Regions from separate parts of the Homo sapiens genome. Here region 1 is linked to region 2. Evidence: fine-mapped expression QTL. A gene starts in region 2. The other region holds a variant in brackets. All regions are shown on one strand. Distances are from middle to middle. Region 1 overlaps TRAPPC9 (trafficking protein particle complex subunit 9). Region 2 holds the start of TRAPPC9 (trafficking protein particle complex subunit 9).

Region 1 (16,107 bases), 160 kb before region 2:
GGTGTGAAATGATCTATGTGTGGAACAGATGCAGCAGGCAAGGGTGGAAGCCGAGGAGCCAATTGTCTCTAGGCAAATATATTGGCATTTATTTCTTTTGAAAATAGCTAAAGCAATATGGCCAACTGTGAACATTTTTTAAATGTGAATGGTGGAGATGCGAGTGTGTACTATTCCCTGTAACATTTCATAGGTTTAAAATACTTCCTAATTTAGTTTTTAAAACTTTGCCCATGATTTGTGGGCTATCTCCATGTGGTGCTTTTTATTTTGTTCCCTGCTCTTCCTCATTTGTTATAATAAGCACATATTGTTTTTAAACCAGATAAAAATGAAAGCTACATTTTAAGACCAAAAAAAAAAATGTGTAAGAAAGAGCAGCAGGCATTTGATACTTTAACCACTTTGGGGAAAATTCTCTAAACTGCTTCTCCCTACTAAGGCTGAGACAGAAAGCCACAGGAAAGGCCAGAGCCAAATCCTACTGCAGGTCAGTCCTCGCCCAACAGGAGGAGAGGCGCTCCTCCCGAGCGCACCTCGAGACTACAAGCTGAACATCCAGCTGAGCTTCCAGGAGCTCAGACAGATTTCGGGAAACTATGCCACGTGCTAGAGGCCTAAACAGCATTTCAACAGCCACCACGTGTCCACCTGGCAAACTGCAACTCAGCCTGTACTCACAGCCAGGCTGTCACATCTGTCCCAGGAACCCTTCCCTGACTCTCCAGGGCCAGGCAGACTCCCGTCCACAACAGGCCTGCAACACCTCATGCACCCCAACAGAGCCTTGGTCACAGTCGCAGCAGGGACCAGGGCCTGACCATCTCTGTCCCCTCAGGGCCTTGCCTGGGGACCGACACGTGGCAAGAGCACTCAGCGAGATACATGCATGAAAGGCCCGCCTCTTACCCTGAACACCAGTCATAAAACTCTAAAAGACAACATCCATTCTCGCAGCACCCTCCTTTGCGTGCTGCTGAAAAGTTACACAGCAGCACCACACAGCAATGCAGAGAAGACTTGAGGGATGGGACCTACATCGGCATGGGAGGGCCCGCTCTGAAAACACAGAATCAGCTTAGAGCGCCAGTACTAATCTCCTTCCCCCTGACTAGAGAATTGGGTAAGCATTTCCAACAGAAGAGATTACAAACTGAATTTTTCACACCCTACACAAAGCACAGAAATGGGACGTCAGGATTTCAAAACAAGAGAAAGCTCGTGGTGGTGGTGGTGTGGTCATTTATCCTCCCATTCCACAGCTTGTTCTTCCCTGGGGCCTTGGTCATCTTATCATCTTGCAGCAATAAAATAATGCTGATACCGTTGAGTAGCAGGCAGAATGGGGACTTTGCAACCTCAACACATCTCACGTAAGCTTCGAAATTATTATTTCACATCTTATACCCAATCAACTAAGCTCGGCATGTGTTCAAATCAGAGGTTTCTTTGTAGGTTCAAATATTTATTGAAAACCAAGCCTAAAGACACAGGAATAACAAAACATGGTCTTCATTTACAATAAGCTTATATGCTTTGGCAAAACAAACATAAAAACAGACACATATCGTAAGATGTGTGCCTCAGACATTAAGTAAAACCTACTTTAATGAGAAGTTTGTATGTTAGCCCAAAAAGGTCAAATGATTGGTGATACATACCATGTTTTCAACTCGAAGTTCAAACGGCATTGGGTTATATACCATCAGCTGAACTTCACACACATCTCCTTGAACCCACTGGAAATCTAGAAAATACACACACATAAATGAATCCATGTATTAGTTGGTATTTTTTCACTTTCTACATGGTTTCCAATTATTCCTCTGGCAATTTACATTCTCAGTGAGGCAGCAGGCTCTATGATCTTCTTGAGATGGGTGATTCAAAGCTGCTTTTTCCACCAGCTTTCTCTGAAACAAAGCAAGGTAGCTGTCACTGGCACTTTGATGCCACATGAATGGCGCTTGTCACTGCCTTCGGCGGGCTGCATTCATGCTGGCATCAGTCCAGATGGCACTGTTCTTGGTACAGAGCCATAAGGCACACTGCGCTTCACGGGGCCCAGAAGCTGGCAACACAGGAAGACGGCACTGGGGTCACTTGTGAGTAACACGGAGTGTGATTTGCCCTATTCCCCTAAGATTGTGAGAGGGGAGTCTTCTCCTCCCCACCCACTCCCAGGTCAACTGCAGTTCAGTACCTGTGCAGGGGCAGAATTCTGACGACCTCCAAAACCCCCAGCCTTGGTGTGCACAACCTGGTGTGCATGCACTATGTAATCCCCACCTTCAGTGTGAATATGATGATTAGGCTATATTGTAAAACAAAGGTGGAAAGTTTTTGCAGATGTGATTGAGGACCCCAATCCGTTGACTCTGAGTTAATCAAAAGGAAGGTTGTCCTGAATGGGCTTGTTCTAATCAGGTGAGACCGCACAGGAGACCATATCCTTGCCTAGAGGGCCTGTGGAGGGGACCACATGGCAAGGGCCTAAGAGCAGCCTCTGGGAGCTGAAAGCAGCACCGGCAGACAGCTGGCAAGAGAACGGGGATCACAGGAAATGAATGAAGAACGGCCTGAGGAGTCGTGAGAGCAGGCCCTTCCCTTAGTTGAGCCTCCAGATGAGGACACAGCCCCAGATGCCACTTGGATTTCAGTCCTGTGAATCCCTGAGCAGAGGACCCAGCTGAAGCCCACACAAATCATGAGGAAGCAGATTTGTGTTGTTTGAAGCCACTGAGTCTGTGGTCATTTGTTACAAAGCAACAGAAAGCTAATTCAGCATCTGTCCCAATTTCCATCACCCCCTCCTCCCTTTACAATCCTCTCTTAGGCAAACCAGAAGGAATTTCAGAATCAATCAACAGGTGGCAGGCATGTGTTAGGTGTGAGGCACTTCCACACAGGTTATCTCATTACTCTGCATAAGGACCTCCTGAGATAGGTATGATAACCCCCGTCACTGCAAGGCAAACACTCAAGGTCCAAACAGGGTAATAAATTGGCCCAGGAACCACACAGCAAGCGAGAGGAGCTGCTGGATTCAGGCCTCTGAACTCAGAGGCACCCCGAGCAGACACGGGTGGCTAACAGGGCAGTGGAGGGCTTCTTCTCTAGCAGATAAGAACGTCTGTTGACCAGAATTATTCAACTTTCAGAGCTTTCATAAGCATGTTCTCAAGATACAGCTTTTCCCACACACTCTGCAACCTGCACAGAGATGAGGACTGACTCCACCACACCTATGACATCTGACCCAGAGCTGGCATGTTGACATTGCATAAATTCCCTATTTAATAAATGGTGCTGGGAAAACTGGCTAGCCATATGTAGAAAGCTGAAACTGGATCCCTTCCTTACACCTTATACAAAAATTAATTCAAGATGGATTAAAGACTTAAACGTTAGACCTAAAACCATAAAAACCCTAGAAGAAAACCTAGGCAATACCATTCAGGACATAGGCATGGGCAAGGACTTCATGTCTAAAACACCAAAAGCAATGGCAACAAAAGACAAAATTGACAAATGGGATCTAATTAAACTAAAGAGCTTCTGCACAGCAAAAGAAACTACCATCAGAGTGAACAGGCAACCTACAAAATGGGAGAAAATTTTCGCAACCTACTCATCTGACAAAGGGCTAATATCCAGAATCTACAATGAACTCAAACAAATTTACAAGAAAAAAACAAACAACCCCATCAAAAAGTGGGCAAAGGAATCAACAGACACTTCTGAAAAGAAGACATTTATGCAGCCAAAAAACACATGAAAAAATGCTCACCATCACTGGCCATCAGAGAAATGCAAATCAAAACCACAATGAGATACCATCTCACACCAGTTAGAATGGCGATCATTAAAAAGTCAGGAAACAACAGGTGCTGGAGAGGATGTGGAGAAATAGGAACACTTTTACACTTTTGGTGGGACTGTAAACTAGTTCAACCATTGTGGAAGTCAGTGTGGCGATTCCTCAGGGATCTAGAACCAGAAATACCATTTGACCCAGCCATCCCATTACTGGGTATATACCCAAAGGACTATAAATCATGCTGCTATAAAGACACATGCACACGTATGTTTATTGCAGCACTATTCACAATAGCAAAGACTTGGAACCAACCCAAATGTCCAACAATGATAGACTGGATTAAGGCCATGTGGCACATATACACCATGGAATACTATGCAGCCATAAAAAAGGATGAGTTCATGTCCTTTGTAGGGACATGGATGAAATTGGAAATCATCATTCTCAGTAAACTATCGCAAAAACAAAAAACCAAACACTGCATATTCTCACTCATAGGTGGGAATTGAACAATGAGAACACATGGACACAGGAAGGGGAACATCACACTCTGGGGACTATTGTGGGGTGGGGAGACGGGGGAGGGATAGCATTAGGAGATATACCTAATGCTAAATGACAAGTTAATGGGTGCAGCGCACCAGCATGGCACATGTATACATATGTAACTAACCTGCACATTGTGCACATGTACCCTAAAACTTAAAGTATAATAATAATAAAATTTAAAATTAATTAATTAATTAATTAATACAGTGCCCACCAGGTGAGCTAACAGCTCCCCTAATGCCTGCACCACCATGTACTCATCTGAGCCTCTGCACAATGCAGTGAATGGCCACAGTCTATGTCAGCAGCACAAATGTTATGCCCGTTCTACAAAAAAGGAGAACCCACCTGACAGGCTGGCCCGCCTGCCTGTCCTATGGTCCTGAGAAGCAAGAAAACTGAGATTCGAACTCCAGTCTGTCTCCAAAACCTACACTCTTTTCACCCTACTGCTTCACCTCTCAGGACCCCAGAAACTCAGGTCTTGTCCTTCCCTCATCCCAGCTTCCATGCCCCCCACCTCCCAGGCCCACCAGCTTCTGAGGACCTTCAATGGGAGGGAGCTCACCCGACCTCCTCATTTACACAAGTCAGTGGCCAGAGCACAACATGCTCCCAGCCCGCCTGACCCCGCCTCACCCAGCCTGCCCGGGGCCACTGATGGTCAGCATCCCAGACCACTCCTCACCACAAATGAAGAAGGTCACTCTCTTTAAACAAGTGGCTAACGTCTGGTAATTAAGAAATGGCTTGCCCTATCATGGTCATGATGATGATGATGATGATAATAAGCCATTTGAAAAATCATTTTCTAGAGTACTAAAAAAATAATGTACACTTAGATGGTCCATGTCTACTAAAGGGTAAATCTAAAATAAACTGTTGATTACATAAAAATTTATTCTTCTTTTTTTTTTTCTTTTTTTGAGATGGAGTATCACTCTGTACCCAGGTTGGAGTGCAGTGGTGTGATCTCGGCTCACTGCAACTTCCACTTCCCGGGTTCAAACGAGTCTCCTGCCTCAGCCTCCCAAGTAGCTGGGACTACAGGTGTGCGCCACCATGCCCGGCTAAATTTGTTTGTATTTTTAGTAGAGACAGGGATTCACCATGTTGGCCAGGCTAGTCTCGAACTCCTGACCTCAACTAATCCCCCCCACCTTGGCCTCCCAGAGTACTAGAATTACAGGCGTGAGCCACCACACCCAGCCTGAAAAGTGATTTTTGCTGAAAGAAGGAGATAACCCCTTTCCATCCTCAGCATGTCAAAGCACACGGTGGTGGCCCTTCCTCACTATTTTGTCCTAGAAGTAGTGGGAAGGCACAAGAATTAGCCTCTCTGAAACCCCCTCATCTCAGGCCCTGCCCTCCCTGTTGCGGGACACACTGTGCATGCTGTCATCTGTGGACCCACGGCACCAGGCAGTGGCGTTTATTGACAAGTTCGTCTCTTTCTGCTAAACTGTATGGACCCATGTGGCGGGAAAGACTCCTGATTTATCAATGCATCCCCAGCACATAGCACAGGGCATATAACTGCTACCAAAAATGTTACTGAATGGCTGCCAGGGACTTTAGAAACATTATCTCCCTTGATCCTCAAAACCACCCTCCGTGTCAGCTTCTAATGTCCCCATTCTGCAGATAGCATGACTGCAGACCACAGAGGCACAATCAGCTGTCCACGGTCACACAGTGGGGAGCTGCAGGGCCAGGGTGCAGCCCAAGTCCACCTGACAGCCACAGCCTCTCCAGGCCACCACGCTGCCTCTGGGGCAGCAGTCGACCTTGGCACTAAGCCTGGCAGCACCACAAAGACCTATCACAAATGACAGAAGGCCTTCAACCCAACACACTCAAGCTGAGGCCAGTGTTGCAGTCATCTTTGCATGGATGTAGCTCAGATGATGGCCACACCAGCCAACACACAAAGACTCGTGAACTATCCCAAGTTAAAGTGGAAAATGGTCTCAAACACTACCCTCAAGAGTTTCTTCATCTCCAAAACCCTATGCCACCTGCTGTGATGATACCTCCCCCAATTATACACCGAGGTTCATTTAGAGAGACTGGAAATTTAGGTTAAAGTTATGTGATCTGTCAAGCTTCTGCACAAGCACTCACTGATCAGTACACTGCCAAAAAGATATTAGAAGCTATGGGATATAAATTGCATTTTCCTACCAAACAAATAATGTGCATTTTGGCTGAAACTTGCGTTATATCTCAGAAAAAAATCTTACATCATCCACTGAATTTGTCCTCAGCCCAGATGAGCAGGTACTTCTTACTATGGTGAGAAGCCATACTATAAAGAAAAAAGGCCCTGGGCATCGAGTCCTGCAACCTGGCATGGAGCCCGGGGAATGTCACTGATAAGCTATCTGACCTGGGGCAGGTACTTAAATTTCGTTCAGTCTTAATTTTCTTATTTGCAAATAGGGAATATAATAATGCCGGCAGCATCAGCATCAAATAGTTTTGAGAATCACTGGATAATGTTTGCTTAAGCCCTCTTCAACAAATACAGATTGTAATTTTCACAAAAGGAATCTTTGACAATGTCTTTTTATTTGTTTTTTGAGGTAGGGTCTTGCTCTGTCACCCAGGCTGGAGTGCAGTGGTACAATCTTGGCTCACTATAGCCTCGACCTCCCAGGCTCAGGTGATTCTCCCACCTCAGCCTCCCAACTAGCTGGGACCACAGGTGCCCGCCACCAGGCCTGGCTATTTTTTTGTATTTTGTGTAGAGATGGGGTTTTGCCATGTTGGCCAGGCTGGTCTCGAACTCCTGGGCTCAAGCAATCCACCAGCCTCAGCCTCCCAAAGTGCTGGGATTACAGGCGTGGGCCACCACACTCGGCCAACAATTTCTTAAGATTGAAAAGGAAAAGCAGAGAGGCAGGGCCTACAATCCATGCCATCAGTGGCACAGGGCCCTGTGCCCTGGCATCTGGGTTCACGCTCTGCTGTTGCTGTCTTCGAATTCCTAGTGATGTTTGAACAAAGGCCCTATGTTTGCATTTTGCACTGGGCCCCACAAATCACATGGCCCATCCTGAGAAGAGGAGTCTCACACCTCCAGTCTCCTAAATCACCTCTGGAAGTTTTTCTCAACGAAAGAACTGAAGCTTTCCTCAAAAGTTCCGTAGGGGAGACAGTTCATCACCAACCCCAATGAGAACACAAAAGAGCAGCCAGAGACTCTAGAAGGTCCCAGGGGGAAGAGCCTGAGCACTCGTAGGACAGCAAGTCCGGGGCCAGGGGAGACAGAGGAGCCCTGAGGGTGGCCTGCCCATCCCCACGGAGCTCGGAAGACGCCCTCCAGAGAGGAAAGGTGGAGTTCCCACAGGAGGCCAGGAAACGACGTCCCCAAAACACAGTGAGGACAGGATTTGTACAGCTCTCTCCTGCTTACCGCAACACACGCTGGAGCACATCTGGGGCTGCCATCAGGCCCTGCCTGTTCATCCACCACGTCTACCCAGCGCCTACACTTCCTGTCACCTCATGTTCTCCAGATCAGAGAAGCAGTGGCAGGAGAGACAAGATTGGGGTGTCTTTCAGAATCAATAGACTAAAAATGGCATTTTAAAAACGCATACACACACACACATGCATGCACACACTCATACACACACATGCATAGACACACACACATACACGCATACACACAATATACACATGCATACACACATACAGATGCATACACATATACACACGCATACACACACATACACACATACAGATACACACAAATTCTAGAGTAGATTATATAGTTAGTGCTCACATTTTCAGAAATTTTCCAAAATACAGTATTGACTGCAGTTTTTCAAGGGCATGACCCCATGTCTCTTTATTTTCTTCTCATTCTAACAGTGAACAGCTAGAACAGCTGGAGCCACTCCTTGCAAAGCCCACACGGCTCCTCAGATGGAGGCTGTGTCTGAGCCTCCAGAGGGCTTCCCCAGGGTCTGCGGGGCCCCCACCCCACACCCCACTCCCAGTTAGCCCAGTGTTTATTGTTCATTCGAGTTCAACGTGTAAGTAACCAGGTACCCCTGCTGACAGATGTACAGTTTTAGAGAGCGTTTATTCACATTTAGTCTCGATAGTCAACTTCTCACGTTTGTGTCTTGCCTGCATGAACTAAACTGAAAAACCAGCCGAGGGTGAGGACTGTGAGGTCCAGGTAATAGGTCTGTCCCACACCTACTGTGCACGTGAGAGGAAACCATAGGGTACTAATGGGAACAGGACACGTGGTCTGTGATGTGAAATCAAGCTTGTCACTAACTGAGTAACTTTTAGTTACTTCTAAAAGTCGTTTCTCTAAGTTTGTTTCCT[C/T]ATCTGTAAAAGGGAGATAAAAATGAAATCTCCCAAAAATACTGGAAAAACTAAATAAGGTAACATATGATAGCCTCTTATAAAGCACAACTAGAATAAAAGAAATGATTACCATTTTTAAAAGCACAAGGTTCTTTGAGTACTCCTACCCTAGTTATGCCCTTTATCTCAGCAAACAACTTTATTTCCTCTGAAGCACTTTATTTTTTAAGGCATTCGGATAATTTACAAATTGTTAATGAAGTTTATTATGAGACCCTTACAGAAGCTAAGAAATCCTAGAGCTAGTAATATATGAGAAATGCTCATCAAGACAATGTGCTGGCTGGACGCAGAGGTCCCCACCTGTAACCCCAGCTCTCTAGGAGGCCGAGGCAGGGGATTCACTTGACCCCAAGAATTCGAGACCAGCCTGGGCAACATGGCAAAACTCCGTCTCTACAAAAAATACAAAAATCAGTGGGTGTGGTAGTATGCACCTGTGGTCCCACCCACTCGGGAGGCTGAGGCAGGAGGATCAACTGAGCCCAGGAGGTTGAGGCAGCAGTGAGTCCTAATTATACCACTGCACTTCAGCCTGGGTGACAGAGCTAGACCCTGTCTCAAAGAAAAAAAAAAGATGATGTGCTACACGTAATGCTCTTATTGTCCCTTCTGCCTTGAATTCCACCATGCCCTGCCAGGAACATGAAATGTACAGTGAGATCTAGGTTCTCCTGTGAGTTCTTGGACATGACACTTAAACGTCGTGAATCAGTTTCCCCGTCAACAAAATCTATAAAATGGGATTCATAATATGTACCCCATCCATTCATTCATTCTTTTGTCACTGCTCCAGGTGCTGGGGAGACAGCAGCTGCACACAGCCTGACAGAATTCTGGGCTTCAGGTGATATTGCAGGACAAAGCATCAATGGGCCAGTGTGGGTTTGAGCTGGAGAGAAGCTGGGAAGAGAATCCCAGACAGCACCGCTAGAGATGGTGGGAGGAGTGGCCTGCAAGGCGCTGGGATCAGAGAACACCCCTCTGAGGGAGGGGGCATTTGAACAGAGACCAAAAGGATGTGACAACAAGAGAGCCAATGATAGAGGGGCAGGGGACGAGTTCCTGGCAAAGGAAAGAGCGAGCCCCAAAGCCCTGGGCTTGGAACAAGCCTGTTTCTTTCCACGACCAGAAAGGAGTCCCTGTAGCTAAACCAGAGTGATGGTGGCAGGAGGTGGCATGAAAACCCCGACAGAGCGGGAGGGGTGTGGGCAGGGGGGGGTCAGGGAGCGCCTGCAGTCCGTAACTCGGGGTGTGGGTGAGCTTGCGAGTGCAACAGGAAGCCTCTGTCCTGGAAAGAAAAGCATGGTGGAAAAAGGAGCCGGAATGCCTTCTTCCTAAATTGGAGGTACAGGAATTAAGAGTAGAAATAAAGAAACAGAAGGAGAAGAAAGCACTGGATATCAAACACAGAGCGCCGCGGTTGCGCAGGCCTCCCGCTCACACTCCTCGGAGGCCCCGGCAGTCGCCAAGCAGCGGCCAGCCTCCAGGCCCTCAAGGTTCTGTCACAGGACGTGTGGGCTCAGCCGGCAGTGGTCCCCAGTGACTGGCAGTCACAATCTCCTGCAAGGGGCCTCGGGCATGTCTTTGTGGCAGCAAGGGATGGGGAGCTTGGCACTACAGCCGGGCTTTGGGAAGGACACCAAGGGACAGGGCCGGTGGTGCATGCTGAGCCCTGGTGCAGGAGGGACGAGAGCTCAGACACAGGAAAGCTCAGGAGAGATTGTCCACTCCCAGTCTCTCCCACAACACAGCTTAACCCAGGACTGACTATCCTGATCACCTGTGTTCACAAAAGAACATAACACGATTACCTCACCCTCCACTCAGTCCTGAACACCATCCAACCCTGAATCTTTCTCTGATGACTCAGAAGTCACTTCAGCCCTTGTAAAATCAGTCTACATCTCCAACTGTCACTCTTCTGTAGTTCACATAAGTCTCAGTTAACAAAAGTCTTTCTGGTTTCCAGAACTTTCACAAAATTACCTTATATGAAATAAATTTTTTAAAATCACATCTATGGGCAATTGCCTGCCAAAAGCAGCAAATCAAATAAACTTCCATGACAGACTGCACACACGCACACACACGCACACATCTGTGCACACATCCACACATGGACACATGTAAACACACATATGCATGCACGCACGCATGCATACACACATACACGCACATATGCACGCATGCACACATACATATGCATGCATGCACACATGCACACACATATACACACATATGCATGCGTGCACACATCCACGCACGCACACACATGCACATGCATGAACTGGCTCAAAATGCTGTTCTAAAAATCTAGAAAAGCCATTGGAAATCAGGTGGCAGAGCACGGTGGGAAAGCCAGGATCGACGTCCTACCTATTTTCTTGTTCCGCTCTTCTCCACGGTTGTGTGCGATAATTGGTGAATAGATGAAAGGACTTTTGGTTGACACGTTCTGACCCAGCAAGCTTTTCATTTTGTGTGGCCGGAGGCTAGCAGGAAGGTTCAATAGTTTCACATGCCTGTTGTTTCAAACAGAACACAAATACTTCAACTGTCTGGTTAGCGTGGTTTCAGGATAAACATAACCAAACATGATGTATCAGAAAAACAGTAAATCAGTCAGAAGGAAGATAAATGGAGGGAGGAAAAGCACTCCGAGGCATCAGGACACAGCAAGGAAGTGTTGCAACAGTAACTCAAGATTCTCCCAGACAGGGGAAATCACTCCCTGGAACTGGGGGAGCAGCCACTTCCCTCTGGGGACTCCTGAACTGGGCCCAAGGATGGTCTGGAGTCAGAAAGGCCAGCTTGAAATCTCGCTTCACACTTACCAGCTGTGTGCCTTTGGGCACGTGCCTTGCCATCTCTAAGACGTAGGTTCCTTGTGTATAAAGTGCAGGTGGGGCCACCACCTTCCCCATGGACCCATGGGGAGGATCCAGCTAAAGACTCCTGGCACAGGGCCCACTGCCTGGCCCAGGATGGCTCTTCTCTCTCTGCCTCTCCCTTTCCCAAGGGACCTGCCCACAGCAAGTGGCAGCCAGACTCTGACCCATGGGAAGAGATGGCACCCATGAGAAGGTCAACAGCACCCTCTGCTCTACTCGCATGCAGCAGCATCTGTATCTGTCATCGCTTCCCACAGTATCCCAGCTGTGGATGTCTGCCAATCTGTACTCATGCTCGAATTCATCCAGCTAGCATTAAGATAAATTTACCAATCCATGGAGTCTGAGCATGAGCAGGCACTGTGCTAACCACTGCATATGTATTCTCTCACTTAAACATCACAAACACCTTCTTAGTTTGGGTACTATTACTATTGTCTCCATGTCATCAATAAGGAAACTCACGCAAGAGGGACTAAGTATACTGTCGCAAATCCGATGGCTGGAAAGCAGTAACAACAGGTGACACTATGCTCTTAAACCACAGTACTAGAAGGTGCTGTCACCCTTGTGACCAGTTTGGGAAGACGGTGGTTAAGATCTGGAACACTCCTGGACGTCAGACAGAAAGGACAAGGAGCAGAGGTGGGAAAACAGGAAGACTGATAGTGACACTGATCGTGATAAATCTACGTGCTCCCCACCCCCCGCCTCCCGGCCTCCGCAGGAAGGTGAGGCCACCTGAGGAGCTCTGGCCAGTAGGTTGTGAGTGGGAGCCACCGAGGCCTCTGTGAGACACACACTTTAGAGTGACGGGCCAGCCCCCAGCTCTCTCCTTCGGCTGCACGGCCATGGTGATCCTGGAGGCTGGACATTGAGAAGGTGGAGCACCAGACAGATGCGGCCTGGAGCACTCAGCAACCTCCCAGAGCTCAGCTGCCCTGGAGAGCCACCCAACCCACACCAAACTTGTGTGAGGGAGGTAGAAACTGTTGTTACAGTAAATCACGAAGATTTCAGGGTTAATTTTTCTGCCACAGTGCACCCTAACCTATACTGCATAATAACAACTGCCTTACAGAATCCACAAAATCACCACCTCTCTCAGTGAGGAGGGACCTCAGATGCCTCATTCCAGCCTGCTCTGTGCAAAGCATGCCTACAGCACTCGGCAGACAATCCCCACCACAGACCCACATCCCAGCCCCGGGGAGCCTGCCACATGCGTGGTTCTCACCCACCACCCTCAGTGACTCACGGCAGGAGATGGTGCTAACCCCGCGCCCTCCAGACCAAGGGCACACCCAGCAGGTGCTCCCCAGCTCCCTTCGCTCTGTGTGTGCCCTTCATTATGCCTTTATCATAGCGGATCAGAACCATTTCATTCTGTATCTGTTTCCACTCAGCTGTGAGCCTGCTGAGGACAGGGGCACCAGGACCTTATCTGTCTGTAGCTGCAGAACTAATAAAAATTGTACTTAGCCTATGAAGCTGCCAACAGCAAAGCAGAAGTCCAGGGATAAAGTGTCCAAGACAAGGATGATTTTGACAGATTCCATCTGGAAACTGCTGACACCGTAAAAACCTGACTTCCCTCAGGAACAGCAGCCGTCAGGGCCGCGCAGAGCACCGCAGAGCGCTGATCAGGAAAGCGACGCCAGACGAACCGGTCGAGAGGAATGACAGTCAACAACCACTCACCTTTTGTTTCTTGGTATTTAATTCATCAATCTTATTCACAGGGAAACATATCCAAGAAGAGATGGGTGGGGACTACGACTGGCCTCAAGTGCCTCGTGTGTATGACGGCGTGGAGGCTGCTTGCTCCGAGTCCGGAGCAACTGAGAGAGCTGGAGAGGGCAACCGCGCCAGCTGTAGTAGCAAGGTGGGGCCAGCCGCTCCCATCCTGAATGCTGCTATACATTTCTTATCAGCTCCAAACAGCTCTGGTTTAAGAAATTCTTAAGGAAGGTTATGGCTTGGCCGCTAGACCATGTATGGGAGAAAATCCTGGACAGTGGCATGAACACAGTCATGGAGGCTGCATCCTGATTGGTGTCTGGGAGTCCGAAGCACGACCCTGAATTTGGGCCTCTAAACACCTCTCTGAATAAATGCCTAGAATCCTTCCTCAAACGGTAGAATTAACTTAAAAGTTTAAGTTTTAAACGTATCAAAGCAACTCGAAGCTCACTCTCACTAGAGGATTTGGGTCTTTGTTCACGTAAACGCCTTCATTAACTCTTAAGCTCTTCTCCAGGTTGAAGGAGCTCAATGTTAGCTCTTAAAAAAAAATATTCAATGAGTCCCACTCCCCATCACTGCCCCCAAATTAAAGACTCACTGGTTAACTGGAAATGGCACTGAAACTTTATTCCACTTCCTTAATAATAATCCAGGACTTACAGTGTGTTAATAATCTACACGCTTACTAGGGGCCTGATAGACTACTGTTGGCTACTGTGTACACACTGTATCATTTTTGCAGAGAATTCCATAGATAAGGAAAAAAGATCACTTATAGTTCTATCAGAACCATCCTCTGCTTTAACTCTGGTCAACAGCAACAGGATGTGGGCTTGGCTGCCTCCTGGCAGATGAGATCACGCTTGGCCACTACCATCTCTTCGCAATTAGCCTTGGGCCAAAAGCGCGTCTTAGGCACTCAACAAATATTTTATTAATTGAATTTTGGAACACAATTAAAATAGGGATGTATTTTGGCTCCTTTTTCATTACTTGCATCGGAATTACTTGAAACCATCTTTGGGTGAGCCTAGTTCATGCTCCCATGCTACAGAGAACAAGTAAGTATTTTCCTGTATATTGCTAAAATAGTTTTATTGTCAAATACTAAGAAAGGCCTCAAGGGAAAAGAAAATGGCTCTGACCATCTATTCTAAAACCAAAGTCATAATTATGAGCCAAACCCAGCAGTAAATTCGTTTATGTTTAACGATTCTATATAGCAGGTCTGATAATTTACTCACCAATGTAGACATTTTTCAACCAGCTTACCCTGTAACACTAACAGGAGCTTTAGTCTTCAAGTGTACATATTACTGAGCTCTTCTTATGTCATAGGGGCTGACCTGCAATGCCTGACTTAATTTTTTTTTTTTTTTTTTGAGACAGAGTCTCGCTCTTGTCGCCCAGGCTGGAATGCAGTGGCATGATCTTGGCTCATTGCAACCTCCACCTTCTGGGTTCCAGTGATTCTCTTGCCTCAGCCTCCCAAGTAGCTGGGACTACAAGCACCTGCCACCACGCCCGGCTAATTTTTGTATTTTTCGTAGAGACGGAGTTTCGCCATGTTGGCCAGGCCGGTCTCGAACTCCTGACCTCCAGTGATCTGCCCACCTCTGCCTCCCAAAGTGCCAGTATTACAGGTATGAACCACCGTGCCCAGCCCCAATTTTTTTTTTAATTAAACTGGTAAAATCCATGTTTCCGGGCATAGGACGTTGAAGTGTTTGGTTGATATATGAAGACAGTCCCGGATTTGTTTCCTAAGGAAGCACCTTGGCCTAATCCATAGCTACTGCCCAGGCCTTCCTTCAGGTGGAGATGAGGAGCAAGGATTTAGGAAGAGGGGGACAACCCTACATGTGATGTGGACATTTAACTACTGCACACAGATTCACTGCAGGCCTGCCACGGACCAGGTGCTGAGAGCATTAACAACACGAGCCCGCTCCCCTCAGTCAGCATCGGCAGACACCTACCAGCTCTTCTTGATGCCTGAGAACATAACTCTGGATTCTCTGTTGCCCAACTCCTGCCAAAAGCTCAATGGCATTCATGAAAGAGTGTGTGATGCACAGCAGCCCACCCGTTATCCTAGATGCTGGCAGCAGGGGGGCTAACGCAAGTCAGTCAACAGCAGGCCACACCGCCCTGTCCTCTGGGAGAGCCACCTTCATCCCCTGGTGCTCCGGTCCCATGCCCTCAGTGTGCGTTACCGAATGCTAACAGCAAAACAACATCAGACACCTGCCTAGATCTTCATGGGGATGTTGCTGAGCATGCTACTCAAAACATCAGAATGTTCTCTTCGAGAGAATCCACTAGAGAGGTTTCCCAGCTCACTGCTGGGAAGAGATGCATTTCCCCAGTGTGACTGATACATGCCTGTTCTTGAGAGGGGGGCTCTTGTAGTCAATCACGCTTCCTTCTTGTCAGTTACCTCACAATCACGCTCTCTCCCATCTCCAGCCATTACGTAGGACATTATGAATTCCAGGTACTAACAGAACTTGTTGTTAGTTTTCTATCCCACTGTTACTTTCCCCTCACTCTGGTTACCTTAACTTGTTCTTTTTTTTGAGAGAGAGAGAGAGGGAGTATCGCACTGTCACCCAGGTTGGAGTGCAGTGGTGCGATCTCCGCTCACTGCAACCTCCGCCTCCTGGGTTCAAACAATTCTGGTGCCTCGGCCACCCAAGTAGCTGGGAC
Region 2 (16,107 bases):
TGAGGCACAAAGAATCGCTTGAGCCCAGGAGGTGGAGGTTGCAGTGAGCCGAGACTGCACCACCACACTCCAGCCTGGGTGACAGAGCAAGACACCATCTCAAAAAAAAAAAAAAAAAAAAAATTAGAGAACCATGGAGAAACAAAAGCAACAACAGGTTACCCATTATGAGAGGAGGATGTATTTGATTTGAGTTCACTGGTGTCATTATCTCACTGAAGTTCAAATGCTAACTGATGTCTAATTGCGGCTGTCCCACTACAGTGAGCAAGCAGCTTTATGTGCCACTGTATTTTCAGTGCCTGGAGCCATGCCTGGCATATGAAGGCTCTAACAAACACTTGTCAGTCCTTATCCACTATGCGTGACGCACTGCGTCACAGCACACTCCCGCTCCTCCTGCAGAGTTGTGAGCTCAGATTTCAAAAGGCAAAAAAGACCTGGCATTTGAAGGTGGATCTGCAACCTCACAGCCAAGAAGTGGATGACTGAAAAATGTCACTGATGCCCATGTGGCAAAGGAGGAAGGCATGAGTCAAGGGGTCAGAGCAGGATTCCTGACCCATGCTGCCTGTGAGCTTCAACCCCTCACCCCTTCTCTGTAAAGCAGGGGCAGGCCACTCCCTGCCGACCTGGCAGGTGGCCGCCAAGCTGTGCACACCATACAGCAACACCTTATCAGGGATGACTCCCACAGTGCCTGCTGGCTGGACAGCAGTGTGCGCTATTCACGAGGCACAGGAGGCGCAGCAGAAGGCAACAAGGTGAGGTAGAAAGGCCCCGGGCCTCAGAGACAGACCTGGTGCTTATATCAGCTCTGCTGCTTGGTGGCTGCCCGGGTCTCTAAACCTTGCTGCCTCAGCCCCACATCAGCCAGCACAGCAACCCCGTGTAGATCACAGGGCTGCCGTGAGGATTAAACACAGAGCAGGTCTACAGCATGCCTTTTCCTTTCCTTAAGCCAAATATGCACATTTGGGTGAAGAAATGAAAATTCCTTCCTTCCAGACCCTGCAAAGCACCACAGGCAGGTGCGACTGAGGCTATTCCATGCTTCCAACTCTGAGGGCTGGATTTAAGACTACTGTGTCTCAATTCTGTGATCATCTCTCCTCATACTTACCAACAACCAGAACGACACCGTGTGACCTTAGATAAATTTCAGAAACATACTGAGCACCTACTTTGCAGCAGGCACTATGGTGGCATGCACCTTACATCACTGAATCCTCACCTGTGGCTCATCAGCCAATCCTATACAGGAGGAGGGAGAGCCCTGTCCAAGCCAGGAGGCCAGTGACTGACACAGTGACACATCACTTTCCCTGGCAAATGGGGACGCCCTCTTGGCAAACAGCTGCTGCCTAGGCTTGCATCTCATCCAGCTCTGCAGAACAGCCACCATGGCAAGACACAGCAGCAAGCAGAGAGTGGAAGGAAGTGGCAAGGAAGAGCTCATCTGCAATTTTGATTTGAAATAAAGTTTTTGACTTAATAACAGGCAAGATGGGAAGCTGACCTTTTCCTGCTCTATCCAACACTCCTTGTACACAGAGAGAACAGACATACTTTTCATTTGTATACGGTAGCTGTTTAGGAGCTCCCAGGTGGTATTTCTGGCATCCTGATATCCATGCTTGGCTGCTTTGTAAGTGAGGAATTCGACACTGTGGCCATCAGGAGGGAAAAAGTAGCCACATACGCAGGGTGCACAGCCTGGCAATCCGGAGACGTGGGCTCTACTTCTAGCTCAGCTAGGACCTAGCCCTTACCTCTCCAGATTCACCCTCTCATCTGTGAACCAAAGGGACGAGACTGAATAAAACTGTTCAAACTGTGCTCTAGCACAGTGCTGTCCAACAGAAATAAAATGCAAGCCACGTAAGTACATTTCAGTTTCTAGTTGCCACATTTTTAAAAGTAAGAATGAAACAGTTGATACTGATTTTTAAAATATAGTTTATTTAACCTAAGATATGTAAAATACTATCATTTCAACATGTAATCTGTATAAAACATATTAGCAAGAAAGTTGGCCAGGCACAGAGGCTCACACCTGTAATCCCAGCACTTTGGGAGGCCAAGGCAGGCAGATCACTCAAGGCCAGGAGTTCAAGACCAGCCTGGCCAACGTGGCAAGATCCTGTCTCTATTAAAGATACAAAACTTAGCCAGGCATGGTGGCACCTGCCTGTAGTCCCAGCTACTTGGGAGGCTGAGGCATGAGAATCACTTGAACCCGGGAGGTGCACGTTGCACTGAGCCAAGATCGCGCCACTGCACTCCAGCCTGAGAGACAGAGTAAGACTCTGTCTCAAAAAAAAATTAGCAAGAAAGTTTATTTTTTCAGAAGTAAGTCTCAAAATCTGGCGTGGGTTTTATTCACAGCCCATCTCAACTAAAACTAGCCTCGTGTCTAGTGCCCAAAAGCCACAACTGGCTGTGGCTGCTGTATGGGACAGAGCTCCAGGAGTCCCACGAGGGGAGCCCCACTAAAAAGAGGGGAGTGTACAAGACAACTCTAAAGGACTCCCCCAACCAAAGGCTGTCTCTGTCTTTAAAAGTCACTGGTTTTTGTTTGGTTGGTTTTTTTAGCAGCACTCAAACAGATTCTGACAGAAAGTCATTAGTTTTAAAAACCAATGGACAACACCTTTCTACTCCTTGCTGCAATGAAATTCTGCCCTGTGCTTTCCCTTTCTGATGCAGGGAAGCCAAGGGGCCTGGGTCTCTAGGTAAGCTTACCTGCTGTCTGTGTCCAGTCCTACAAAGTCCTTTTTCTCAAACGGGACACAGAGAAGGGGGATCTTATCCCCAGACTTGTCTGTGGCTCTGTCCAGACGCTTGGACTCCAGCACGATGAACAGTGACTCGATGAAGTCCTCGATTCTCTTCTCCACCGTCTGGCAGTCCTCGTAGTTGGGGTAGAAAGCCACGTCGGTGCGCGGCTGCTCCACGATCTCCCCCTGCAGCCCGAAGACAAAGAGCCGGGAGTCATACAGTGTGGAGCCGTAGATCTCCTTCTGCACGTGGAACTTCTCAAAGGTCTGTGGCCAGTCCTTGGCCGAGAAGCAGTCTGTGATGGTGATGAGGCCCACGACTTTGCGGTGGGTCTGGAAGTCACCCCACTCGTTGTTCTCGGGTGGGTAGTGGTGCCTGTAGCGGATGTAGAGGACTCGCTGGGAGTCCCGCACGCTGATCTGACTCACAGAGCAAATCCTCTTATAGATCCTGAAGAAGTTCTCCTCGGAGACGATGCCCACAGGCTGGACCACCACGAGCAGCGTCTGGTGGTCCTCAGCACACTGCATGTAGTCAGGGACGCTCATTTTGAAGTCCCTGTTCAGAGAGAAGAAATGAGGCTGTGAGACACAGAGTCCTGAGTGCTGAGAGCCTACCCTGGGAGGCAGTGACTGTGACCTTCACTACCCAGAGGCAGGGGAAGCCCCAAGGAAAGCCGTGGCATCAACAGGTCTTAGGGCTCTACACGTGGCTGTCGCAGCTCTGATCATAATGCTGTAACTGTTGACCTTCAGTCCCTTGGCCTCAGCATGGAGCTTCTACAGAAATGGGGCTGTTTCTTGTCTTTCTATTCTCACCACCTAACCAGGAGTAGTAAGAGTCAGTGCTCAAAAATGTCTGTTGAGTGAATGAATAAACACGTGTGTAATTGCTCCCCCATCCCCTCAACAGGATATTAAGAAAAATCCACCATGCAATCACATCTGGATTTGAATTCCGGGCTCCCTGGAACTCCTCAGCTACAAAATAGTGGTGATAATAGAACTTGTCTTGGCCGGGCATGGTGGCTCATGCCTGTAATCCTAACACTTTGGAAGGCCGAAGCTGGCGGATCACTTGAGGTCAGGAATTCGAGACCAGCCTGGCCAACATGGTGAAACCCCACCTATACTAAAAATACAAAAATTAGCCGGGTGTGGTGGCACGTGCCTGTAATCCCAGTTACCCAGGAGGCTGAGGCAGGAAAATCACTGGAACCCGGGAGGTGAAAGCTGCAGTGAGCCAAGATTGCGCCACTGCACTCCAGCCTGGGTGACAGAGTGAGACTCCGTCTCAAAAAAAAAAAAAAAAGAGGCGGGGCGCAGTGGCTCACACCTGTAATCCCAGCACTTTGGGAAGCTGAGGCAGGCAGATCACAAGGTCAGAAGATCGAGATCATCCTGGCTAACATGGTGAAACCCCATCTTTACTAAAAATACAAAAAATTAGCCCGGCGTGGTGGCAGGCACCTGTAGTCCCAGCTACTTGGGAGGCTGAGGCAGGAGAATGGCATGAACCAGGGAGGCAGAGCTTGCAGTGAGCCCAGATGGCGCCACTGCACTCCAGCCTGGGCGACAGAGCCAGACTGCATCTCAAAAAAAAAAAAAAAAAAAAAGAATTAAAAGAAAAAGAACTTGCCTTATAAAACTGTATCTAGATTGAGGAGGTTGCGAATGTAAAGGGCCTAGCATTGTGCCTAACATAAAAGGAGAGATTACACAAATATACCACCTTTCCTTTATAAATGGGAGAGTTGCCATAACCTCTCTGAGCCAATTTTGTCAGATATAAAAAGAAAACGTTATTACCTGATTCCCCAGAGCTGGGGAAAAATTAAATTAGATGACCCACGTGAAAGAATCTGGCTCATAGGAGATCCTCAATACATGTTTGTTGAAGGGATTAGTGAACAAACAAACAAATGAACAATCCAATGAATGCTGCCCCCAGCCTACAGACGGTCATGATGGAAATCCCACTGCCTGGAAGTCAGGGCCGATATTCAACTCCCAGCTCTACACGCACGATCTGGGTGACCTGGAGCAAGCCTGTGTGCTTCCCTGAACCCTAGTTTCATTGTGAATAAAAATGAGGATAGTAACACATACCTCAAGGTGTCAGCAAGTCAACATTCTGGTTGTGATAACATACTGTGGTTTTGTAACATGGCACCACGGGGGGAAACTGGGCAAAAGGTATATAGGATCCCTCAGTATTATTTCTGACAAATGCACATGGAGCTACAACTACTATAGTCTCAAATAAAAAGTCTAATTTTTTTAAAGGTTAGGGAGATTAAATGAGCTCTCTGTATCAAATAAGAAAAAGATGCCTCGATACACACCTCCACTGTCCCCATCAGTGGGCTGACACTTCCTGAGGGGATTTGGCCATGGTCCCCATGGCCAGAGGCAGCTGTACCATGAGCTAATGGGGTTCAGCTTCAGGCCCCTTCCATGGCCCTCTATCTAATTTTGCATTTTTAATTTTGTTTTCTTTTTCTTAAATAGGAAGCCCAAAACTGCATAACCTTCAGGTCACCAAAGCCTGACTGCAGAGATCGTGGCAGTAAAACCCTCCCAGGTGACACTAAGATTAAAGTGACATTGCTATAAGACCTCTGTGAAATTCTAATGGCAAGCTTCTCACCTGCACGGAGAGGAGGAGGACTGTGTGTCGGGGGCTATCCTGGACATCACAACCCCACCTCTACAGACTTCAAAAATACACATGGATAGAGAAGTATGAACAAAATTAAATTTTAAAAAAAGGAAACCCTAGCCTCCCAACATGTCTTGCTTCTGCCCAGGATCTAAACGGTTCACAAGTATATTACATGTGTGTGACTCAGCCCAAGTCCCTGACTCCAGTGCTCACGCTCTCAAGGACGACGCCCCACTCTCTCCTGCCCTTTCCCCACAACGATTCCCTAAAGAGTCTTTTCTGCACACAAAAACCACCTTCGAAAGAACCAAAATCACATCACCTTCCAACAAAGAGGCATAAAACCCCTCGGAGGACATATCAAAATACTGAGCGGGGGAGACTGGAGCGCTCATGTTTCTCAAAAGTAGGCACAGGTTTAACAGAAGCTGAGAAACACCGAAGCCTTCATTCTACAGAGGAGGAGAGCGCGGCCCACCGCAGGTAACAAAGGGCCTTATTTTAGAAGTATCATCTCGGCCAGACACGGTGGCTCACACCTGTAATCCCAACACTTTGGGAGACAGAGGCGGGAGGATCACTTGAGGTCAGCAGTTAGAGACCAGCCTGGTCAACATGACAAAACCCCATCTCTATTAAAAATACAAAAATTAGCCAGGAGTGGTAGCACACACCCGCAGTCCCAGCTACTCCAGAGGCTGAGGCAGGAGAATTGCTTGAACTCAGGAGGTGGAGGAGGCAGTGAGCCAAGATCACAACACTGCACTCCAGCCTGGGTAACAGAGCGAGACTCCATCTCAAAAAAATTAATAAATAAAAATGATTTAAAAATAAAAACTATCGTCTCATCTAAAAAGCAGCATAATCAGCCGGGTGTGGTGGCTCACACCTGTAATCCCAGCACTTTGGGAGGCGGAGGCAGGCAGATCACTTGAGGTCAGGAGTTGGAGACCAGCCTGACCAACATGGAGAAACCCGGTCTCTAATAAAAATACAAAAAATTAGCCAGGCGTGGTGGCGCATGCCTGTGATCCCAGCTACTCAGGAGGCTGAGGCAGGAGAATCGCTTGAACCCAGGAGATGGGGGTTGCAGTGAGCCGAGATCACGCCACTGCACTCCAGCCTGGGCAATAAGAGTAAGACTCCCTCTCAAAAAAAAAAAAAAAAAAAACACAACCTGACCTCACACCTGTGATCTCAACACTTTGGGAGGCCAAGTCGAGTGGATCGCCTGAGGTCAGGAGTTCGAGACCAGCCTGGCCAACATGGCAAAACCCTTTCTCTACTAAAAATACAAAAATTAGCCAGGCTTGGTGGCATGCACCTATAATTCCAGCTACTTGGGAGGCTGAGGCACGGGAATCGCTTGAACCCAGGGAGGAGGAGGTTACAGTGAACTGAGATCACACCACTGCACTCCAGCCTGGGTGACAAAGTAAGACTCTTTAAAAAAAAAAAAAAAAAGACACCTGCCACTGAGCCAGTTCTGGTATCTGAGACTAAGCTAATACAGGTATTAAAACAGCAAAAATATGTATCTTCAACTTGGTAGTTCCTCCATAGAGCTACTATAAAACCAGCAATCCAAGAGATCTGAAAACATGTGTCCACACCAGAAACATGTACAGGAATGTACATAGCAGTATTATTCCTCTTTTTCTGAGATGGAGTTTCGCTCTGTCACCCAGGCTGGAGTACAGTGGCAGGATTTCAGCTCACCTCAACCTCTGCCTCCCAGGTTCAAGCGATTCTCATGCCTCGGCCTCCCGGGTAGCTGGGACTACAGGCGTGAGCCACCATGCTCGGCTAATTTTTGTATTTTCCGTGGAGATAGGGTTTTGCCATGTTGTCCAGGCTGGTCTCGAACTCATGATCTCAGGTGATCCACCCGCCTCAGCCTCCCAAAGTGCTGGGATTACAGGCACAACATTATTCTTGTTTTTTGTTTGTTTGTTGTTTTGAGATGGAGTCTCACTCTGTCGCCAGGCTGGAAAGCAGTGGCGCGATCTCGGCTCACTGCAAACTCCGCCTCCCAGGTTCAAGGGATTCTACTGCCTCAGCCTCCCAAGTAGCTGGGACTACAGGCGCCCACCACCATGCCCAGCTAATTTTTGTATTTTTAGTAGAGAGGGGGTTTCACCATGTTGGCCGGGATGGTCTCGATCTCTTGACCTCGTGATCTGCCCGCCTCGGCCTCCCAAAGTGCTGGGATTACAGGCGTGAGCCACCATGCCTGGCCAGGCACAGCATTATTCTTAATAGCTAAGGAGTGAAAACAACACAAATGTCCATCAACTGCCTGATACACAAAATGTTAAATCTATACAATGGAATATTATTCAGCCACAGAAAGGAACAAAGTGCTGATGTAAGCCACAACATGAATAACTTTAGAGCACTGTGCTGAATGAAAGAAGCTAAATACAAAAGGCCACATGTTGTATGATTCCATTAATAGGAAATGCCCTGAATATGCAAATCTATATATATCGAAAGTAAACCGGTGGCCGCCAGGGGCTGTCGGAGGGGGGAATGAGGAGTGACTGCTAATGGGTATGGAGTTTCTTTCTGGGGTGATGAAAATGTTCTGGAATGACAATGGTAACACAAGTGTGAATATACTAAAAATTACTGAATTGGCCAGGCATGGTGGCTCACGCCTGTAATCCCAGTACTTTGGGAGGCCAAGGCGGGTGGATCACGAGGTCAGGAGTTCGAGAGCAGCCTGGCCAACAGAGTGAAACCCCGTCTCTACTAAAAATACAAAAAAAATGTAGCCGGGCATGGTGGCAGGCACCTGTAATCCCAGCTACTCAGGAGGCTGAGGCAGGAGAATCGCTTGAACCCAGGAGGCGGAGGGTGCAGTGAGCCAAGATCGTGCCATTGCACTCCAGCCCAGGCGACAGTGCGAGACTCCGTCTCAAAAAAAAAAAAAAAAGAAAAATCACTGAATTGTACACTTTAAAGCAGTGGATTTTATGGCAGGTAATCGAGGCTCAATGAAGCTGTTATTTTTGACACACTAGATTTCTGAAACATTTATTGTTTACATGTTTCCGGACAACTGTTTTTCCCTCTACACTACTAGTCCTCCACACAATTAAAAAAACGAACAAACACACACAACAAAACCTAGCCAGATCTTTAGGACGGCAATGTTCCTGGGCCTCCAACATCATCCACCCGGTGCTTTGTTTCAGGTTAACAAATAAAGATGTCATAGGTAGCTATGACTACCTTAGAAACACGGGACAGTCACCAGTTTAAACTGGGGCCGTGAGGGATGGAAGGGAAGTCACTCCCCCATACCTTTCAACTGGGCCTTGCTTCCAGCGTTTTAATTCCTCTCTCTATAGAAACATTTGAAGACAGACAACGCATCCTAACACGGGAAAACTTTCGGTTAACAGACATTCACGTTGGGAAGGTCTGCAGGGGTGGAGGGGATTGGGGTGGGCTGACAGGGAGAAGACCACAGGCCAGTAGCCTGACTTCCTCTCCCCAGGGTTCCCTGGGATAAGTTGGAGTTGACAGCGCGCTTATCCCAGAGAGCACCGCCTGATGCCGCCCAGCTAGATCGCAGGCACTTTGAATCCAGGAGACAGGAGGGAAAGGGCTAGGGGAGAAGTCCGGGAACTCAGGGCGGGGAAAGCGCCGGGGGCGTGGGCTGTGCTGGGCCCCAGGCCCCAGCCGCGCGTCCCAGACCCCGCGGGCTCCAGTGGGCTTAGCCAGGCCCAGGGGCGGGGGGCTCCAGCGCCGCGGACGGCCCGGGAGGGGAAGCCAGGCGGAGACAGCTCGGAGGCACAGAGGGGAAGGGGACCCCCGCCGCGAGCTCGGGAGAGCAGAGCCGGCCCGGGCAGCAGGTGTGGGCCGGGTCCCGGACAGGTGTCCGCCGAGTCTTCAGCGGGTGTGGGACACGGCCTTGGACAGATGTAAGCAGAGCGCCAACAGGAGCAAGGGCGCCTCGAGCAGGTGCACGCTGAACCCCGGCCCGGCAGCGGACCCGGACAGGTGTGGCGGGCTCCGCCCGGACAGGTGAGGGCCGGGCGAGCCCCTCCGCGGGACGCGCCGACTCCACGGCCAGCCGCGCAGCCCTCCCCGCAGCCGGTCCGAATTGCCTGACCGGGAGCCCCCCCGCTTTGCACTTACACAGCCGGTGGCCCCGGGCCCGGAGCGGGAGCCCACGACCTGGCGGGCAGCGGGGCCGAGCAGCCTCTGCGGCCACTTCCCAGGCTCTGGGCTGGCGCTTCCTACTGGCGGCCGAGCCGGCGCTGCTCCTGCGCGTGCGCGGAGGCCAGGCCTGGGCCCCCGATCCGTCCCGGGTTTTGCAAGAGACGCGAGGGAAGCAAGGGGGTAGGAGCGAGGGAGAAAAGAGGAAGGAGGAGCGAGGGAGAGAAGAGGGGACAGGGAGGGAGGGGACATGGGGAGGGAGGAGGAGGAGGGAGGAGGGAGAGAAAAAGGTGGGGTGAAAGAAGGAGGGAGGAGGAGCGAGGGAGAGAAGCGGGGACGGGGAGGGAGGAGGAGGAGAGTAGGAGGAGGAGGGGTGAAAGAAGGAGGGAGGGGCAGCGAGAGAGAGAAGCGGGGGACAGGGAGAGGGTGGAGGAGGGAGGAGGGAGGGAAAAAGGAGGGGTGAAAGGAGGGAGGAAGAGGAGGAGGGAAGGAGGGAGATGGAGGGAGATGGAGCGAGGAGGGAGGGAGGGACCGGAGCAAGAGAACAGAGACTAGGAGGAAAGCTTCTGCACCTGGGGCGGCGCAGCTGGAAGGAGGCCCAGTTCTGTCCCCGCCGCTTACCAGTCCTTCAGGGCGCGCAGCTCAAATTTCACTTCCTCTGTGAAGCTCAGGGGTGGAGGCCCCGCGGAAGCCCACTGTGGATCCCTGCGGCACCCCCTGTGACCCTCACGGTACCCCCCGTGACTCCCACGGTCGTGCCCCCCACGTGGGTGGGTGACCGTGGCGCGCGCGGCCTGGGAGCGCCTCCAGGATCGCAGGGCCCGGGAGGCACGTGAGGTGCGAGCCCCAGCCTGGGCCGGCTTCCCCCTGTGTGGCGCGCGGTCTTGATCCCCAGCTGGCACCATGGCACTCCCGACTTTGAGGGCCCCAACAATCCATCCACATAAAAGGTTCCAAAGAGGCGACAGGGGCTAGGACAGCTGTCGTTAGTTCAGTGCCAAGGCGCCAAGCTTGCTAAGTGCGGGCAGAAGCCATTTAAGGATTTAAACCCCTCTGGGTTCAAAAATAAAATAAAATAAAGCAGGAGATGGGGGAGGCTTACAGACTTAAGATGCCCAGCACATGAATTAACAGTGGCATCCGCAGGGAAAATTGAAAACAGAGAGCCGCTCTCCGTTATGTATGTTTAATGTTCTGTTTGAATCTTTTAACATGTACATGTATTTCTTTTTCAATTAAAAAATCCTGGCCAGGAGAAATGGCTCACACCTGTAATCCCAACACTTTGGGAGACTGAGGCGGGTGGATCACTTGAGGTTAGGAGTTCAAGACCAGCCTGGCCAACATGGTGAAACCCCGTCTCTACTAAAAATACAAAATTAGCCAGATGTGGTGGCGCGCGCCTGTAATCCCAGCTACTCAGCAGGCTGAGGCAGGAGAATCGCTTGAACCTGGAAGACAGAGGTTTCAGTGAGCCGAGATCATGCGATTGCACTCCAGCCTGGGCAACAACTGCAAAACTCTATCTCAAACAACAACAACAACAAACACTAAAAAGGGCTGGGTGTGGTGGCTCACACCTGTAATCTCAGCACTTCGGGAAGCCAAGGCGGGTGGATCACCTGAGGTCAGGAGTTCAAGATCATCCTGGGCAACATGGTGAAACTCCAGTCTCCACTAAAAATACAAAAATTAGTTGAGCGTGGTGGTACATGCCTGTAATCCCAGCTACTAGGCAGTCTGAGGCAGGAGAATCTCTTGAACCCGGGAGGCGGGGGCTGCAGTAAACCAAGATCACACCACTGCACTCCAGCCTGGGTGACAGAGAGAGCCCATCTCAAAAAAAAAAAAAAAAAAAATCCTAAAATGGAAAAGTAAAGAGGACAGGAGTGGTTTTCTCAGCACATACAGCAGCAAGGGAGAAATGGTCTGAGCCAGCATTTTTCCTTTCAGCCAGCAGGCACTTACCCGCTCTGGGCTATGTGACCAGGGCTGTTTTATTATCACATGTGTTATAAAATAAGATACTATCCCTCATCCCTGCTCAGGGCTAGTGGAAAACCAATTGAGTTTTTATTGAATTATTTTCTACAGAGTCAGAATGAGTTATAAATAAAACATATCTTCAGGGCAAAACAAATAGAGCTGATTTCCAGCCTGCCAGACAGCCAGGAAGTTTTCAACAGAGGTGCCCAGGGGCTGAGGAAGAGTGTCTCCCTGACAACGCACAAGCTGCCCAACGTGGCTACCTCATGGTGTTACGACCGCATGGAGGCCGTGCAGTGGCTCACAGCTGTAATCCCAGCACTTTGGGAGGCCGAAGCAGACGGATTGCTTGAGCCCAGGAGTTTAAGACCAGCCTGGGCAACACAGGGAAACTCTGTCTCTTGGAAAAAATACCAAAATTAGCTGGGCAGGATGGCACAAACCTGTAGCCACAGCTACTCAGGAGACTGAGGCAAGAGGATCGCTTGAGTCCAGCCAGGTCGAGGCTGCAGTAAACCATGATCACTCTAGCCTGGGAGAGACAGCAAGACCCTGTCTCAAAAAAAAAGTGGTTTTTTTTATTTTTTTTAAATGAATAAATAAACAAAAGAGCGTATGGGCTTAACAGAGAATACAGAAAAGATACATTTAAAAGGCCACTGCTAATGGAGGTCTGAGTGCAGAAACTAGGCTCCAAGCTTACCTCATAAGATCCAAGCAAGGGAGCTATTTTTAGTGCTGAAGTCCAGAAAGGATACCCTACTTGGCTGGGGTCACACAAATGGCTGGTGCTATTTAGGGATTCAAATCCAGGGCTGTCAGACCCCACAGACTCTACTTTTTGCATAGGTCTTTTCTTATTCTGTCTGTAAGTGGATAAGGCAAGCAACTTGGAAAGCAAGATTGAAAGCTGGCAAAAGGAAACATTGCTTATTTGCAATGTACACACTTCAATCAATTTATGTTGCTGTCTCAGCAAATCTGTGGGGGAAGGAGAGCGGGGACTATTATTCTGCTTTTTTTTAAATTTATTTATTTACTTTTTTGAGACAGAGTCTCACTCTGTCACCCAGGCTGGAGTATAGTGGCACGATCTCAGCTCACTGCAACCTCCACCTCCCGGGTTCACGCGATTCTCCTGCCTCAGCCTCCTGAGTAGCTGAGATTACAGGTGCGCGCCACCACACTCGGCTAATTTTTGTATTTTTAGTAGAGACGGGGTTTCACCGTGTTGGTCAGGCTGGTCTCGAACTCCTGACCTCATGATCCTCCCACCTCGGCCTCCCAAAGTGCTGGTATTATTACTCTGCATTTTTACCAATGAGAAAACGGAGGCTCAGAGAGTGTAAGAGCCTGCCACAGCCCAGCCCACAATGATCAAATGAGAACATCCAAAGCAGTCCCCGTACTGTCTAGGTCCTGGGGCTGTGCTCCTTTAGCATCTTTAACATTTCCTAAGCATCTCCTCTGAAGGGTGACAATTCAAACATACAAAACCTGCCCTCAAGGAATTTACAGACATCTAAGGTTGGAAGGAATTTCTAAAATAACCAGGTCCAACCTCATACTCACACTCTCTCCCCTCTACAAAAGTCCTAACAGGCAGAATGCTTTGATGATGTGGCTATTTGTCTTAGTTGGTTTGGGCAGATATAAGAAATTACTAGAACAACACTGAGATCAGGGCGCCAGCATGGGTAGGGTGTGATGAAGGTCATCTTCTGAATGGCAGATGGCTGGCTTCTTGTATTTTCACATGACAGATAGAGAGCAAACTAGCTGTCTGGTCTCTTTTTTTTTTTTTTTTTTAAGATAGAGTCTCACTCTTGTTGCCCAGGCTGGAGTGCAGTGGCGCAATCTCAGCTCACCACAACCTCCACCTCCTGGGTTCAAGCGATTCTCCTGCCTCAGCCTCCTGAGTACTTGGGATTACAGGCATGCACCTCCACACCCAGCTAATTTTTTGTATTTTTTAGTAGAGACAGGGTTTCTCCATGTTGGTCAGGCTGCTCTCAAACTCCCGACCTCAGGTGATTCGCCTGCCTCAGCCTCCCGAAGTGCTGGGATTACAGGCATGAGCCACCGCACCCGGCCTAATTTTGTATTTTAAGTAGAGGCACAGTTTCACCATGTTGGCCAGGCTGGTCTCGAACTCCTGACCTCAGGTGATCCACCTGCCTCAGCCTCCCAAAGTGCTGGGATTACAGGCATGAGCCACCGTGTCCAGCCTGGTCTCTTCTTAGAAGCGCACTAATCCCATTCATGGGGGTTCTGCCCTTATGACCTAATTACCTCCCAAAGGCCCCACATCCATATATGATCATATTGGGGAATAAATTTAAACATATGAATTTGGGAAGAACATGAACATTCAGTTCATAACAAGCTCTACAAGAAAATTATCCAGTAAACTCAGCCAGAATATGCTTCCCTGAAACATCCAGTCAAGGGGTCTCAAGAAATAGGACCAAGCTGGCCTCGGTATCTCATGTCTGTAATCCCAGCATTTTGAGAGGCCAAGGAGGGAGGATTGTTTGATCCCAGGAGCTAGAGATGAGCCCAAGCAACATAGCTAGACCCCATCTCCACACAAAATTTAAAAAATAGCCGGCACGATTGTGCACACCTGTAGTCCCAGCTACTTGGGATGCTGAGGTGAGAGGATTGCTTGAGCTCAGAAAGTCAAGGCTATAGTCAGCTCGATCGTGCCACTGCACTCCAGCCTGGGAGACAGAGCAAAGAGTGAAACTCTGTCTAAATATATATACACACACACATACACACACACACATATAATATATATATAATCTATATATGGGACTAATGCCCCACAAGGCTTGCTGAGGTTGACAATTATCACAGCTGTGAGTTAAAAGTACAGGCTGGGACAGGTACGGTGGCTCATACCTGTAATCCCAGCACTTTGGGAGGCCGAGGCAGGTGGATCACGAGGTCAGGAGTTTGACACCACCCTGGCCAACATGGCAAAACCCCGTCTCTACTAAAAATAATAATAATAATACAAAAATTAGCCGGGCGTGGTGGTGGGCGCCTGTAATCCCAGCTACTCGGGAGGCTGAGGCAGGAGAATCACTTGAACCTGGGAGGCAGAGGCTACAGTGAGCAGAGATCGTGCCACTGCACTCCAGCCTGGGCAACAAGAGCAAGACTCCGTCTCAAAAAAAAAAAAAAAAAGTGCAGGCTAGACTCCAGCCTGGGCAACAGTGTGAGACCCTATCTCAAAAAAAAAAAAAAAAAGTTTAGGACAGAGTCCCTGCTCCATCACTCCCTAATTACTTGCCTTCCATATTTTCAGTTATTATATAAGGATAATCATTTCATAGGGCTATCATTAGGATTAAAGAAAGTGTGAGAAGGCAATTTGAGACAGAATGGACAAATTCTGTCACATGCTACTTGTACAGCCTCAGGGTAAGGTGACCATATAGCTTTACTTTCCTGGTACAATTCCAGCTTATGTCCTGGCTAACGGTGTTCCGGTTGGGTGATCCAATCACTCCACTTTGCACAAAAGCCAGCACCTCTCAAGGGTTTTGATCCCCCACCAGTACCATAAAGAGTTTCTTCTCCTTCCCGTGTTATAGGACTCCATAGTGTCATGTCTCACCTGGGCTTTCTAGCTCACAGGCTATGGAGGGAAAAAATAACTATACTTATTTAGCACAACTAAGAACCAGCTACTTGGTTAGACCTTCATAACTCTTCCTTCAAAATAACACGATGGTAACTACCATTTACAAAACTTTTTTTTATCTTTTTTTTTTTTTTTTGAGACAGGGTCTTGCTCTGTGGCCCAGGCTGAAGCGCAGTGGTGCGATCTTGGCTCACTGTGGATCCTCTTCCTCCTGGGCTCAAGCCAACGTCCCACTTCAGCCTCCCATCATGCCCGGCTAATTTTTGTAAATTTTTTTGTAGAGGCAGGGTTTCCCTACGTTGCCCAGGCTAGTCTGGAACTCCTGAGCCCAAGTGATCCGCCCGTCTCGGCCTCCCAAAGTGCTGGGATTACAGGCGTGAGCCACCGTGCCCGGCCTCATTTATGAAACTCTTATCTGGCAGGCAATGTGCAATGTGCTTGGCATAAATATCTCATATCCTCACAATAATCGTGTAAGGAAGAAACTCGGACTCAACCTCAAGATAAGCACCAAAGCTCATTTTAAACCTCACTGCCCTCTGCAAGATAACTATACAGATGCTCCTCGATTTATGATGGGTTGCTTCCCGATAAGCCCATCGCAAAGTTGAAAAATCCCCTAAGTCGAGCCACCCTAAGTTGGGGACGCCTGCATCATGCTTTCAGAGGTGAATGTAAAGTGGGTGAAGCGGCTCAGTGATTGAGCGCTAGCCAGGATTCCACGCCAGGCCTTTCCGTGTTCAACAGCTGCTTTCAGAAGTGTGGAAGCCTCGGAGAGGGTCCCTGAGGTAAGATGGGCTGAGCGTCGCCGCCTTCTGCAAGGACACCAGCCTTGAGAGAAGAGAGGAGAT

The links. PIP is the estimated chance that this variant, and not a neighbour inherited with it, causes the effect.
Region 1: its variant is fine-mapped to the expression of TRAPPC9 in whole blood (INTERVAL, PIP 0.92).

What each region holds. Positions count from the first base shown.
Region 1 is chr8:140,289,332-140,305,438 of GRCh38, forward strand. It overlaps TRAPPC9 (trafficking protein particle complex subunit 9), which reads right to left. Exons shown (of 23, transcript NM_001160372.4): 11 at 11,138-11,283; 12 at 1,662-1,747. Among named protein-coding and RNA genes, the nearest start is that of TRAPPC9, 160 kb to the right of the region's middle. RefSeq lists enhancers at 9,722-10,222, 10,223-10,723, 12,892-13,392, 13,393-13,893. The variant C/T (reference allele first, on the strand shown) is at 8,717.
Region 2 is chr8:140,448,045-140,464,151 of GRCh38, forward strand. It overlaps TRAPPC9 (trafficking protein particle complex subunit 9), which reads right to left and starts at 9,700. Exons shown (of 23, transcript NM_001160372.4): 1 at 9,595-9,700; 2 at 2,746-3,339. The coding sequence starts at 3,329. RefSeq lists enhancers at 86-659, 660-1,232, 9,954-10,472, 16,055-16,107 and silencers at 9,245-9,294, 9,405-9,794, 9,885-10,124, 10,245-10,554.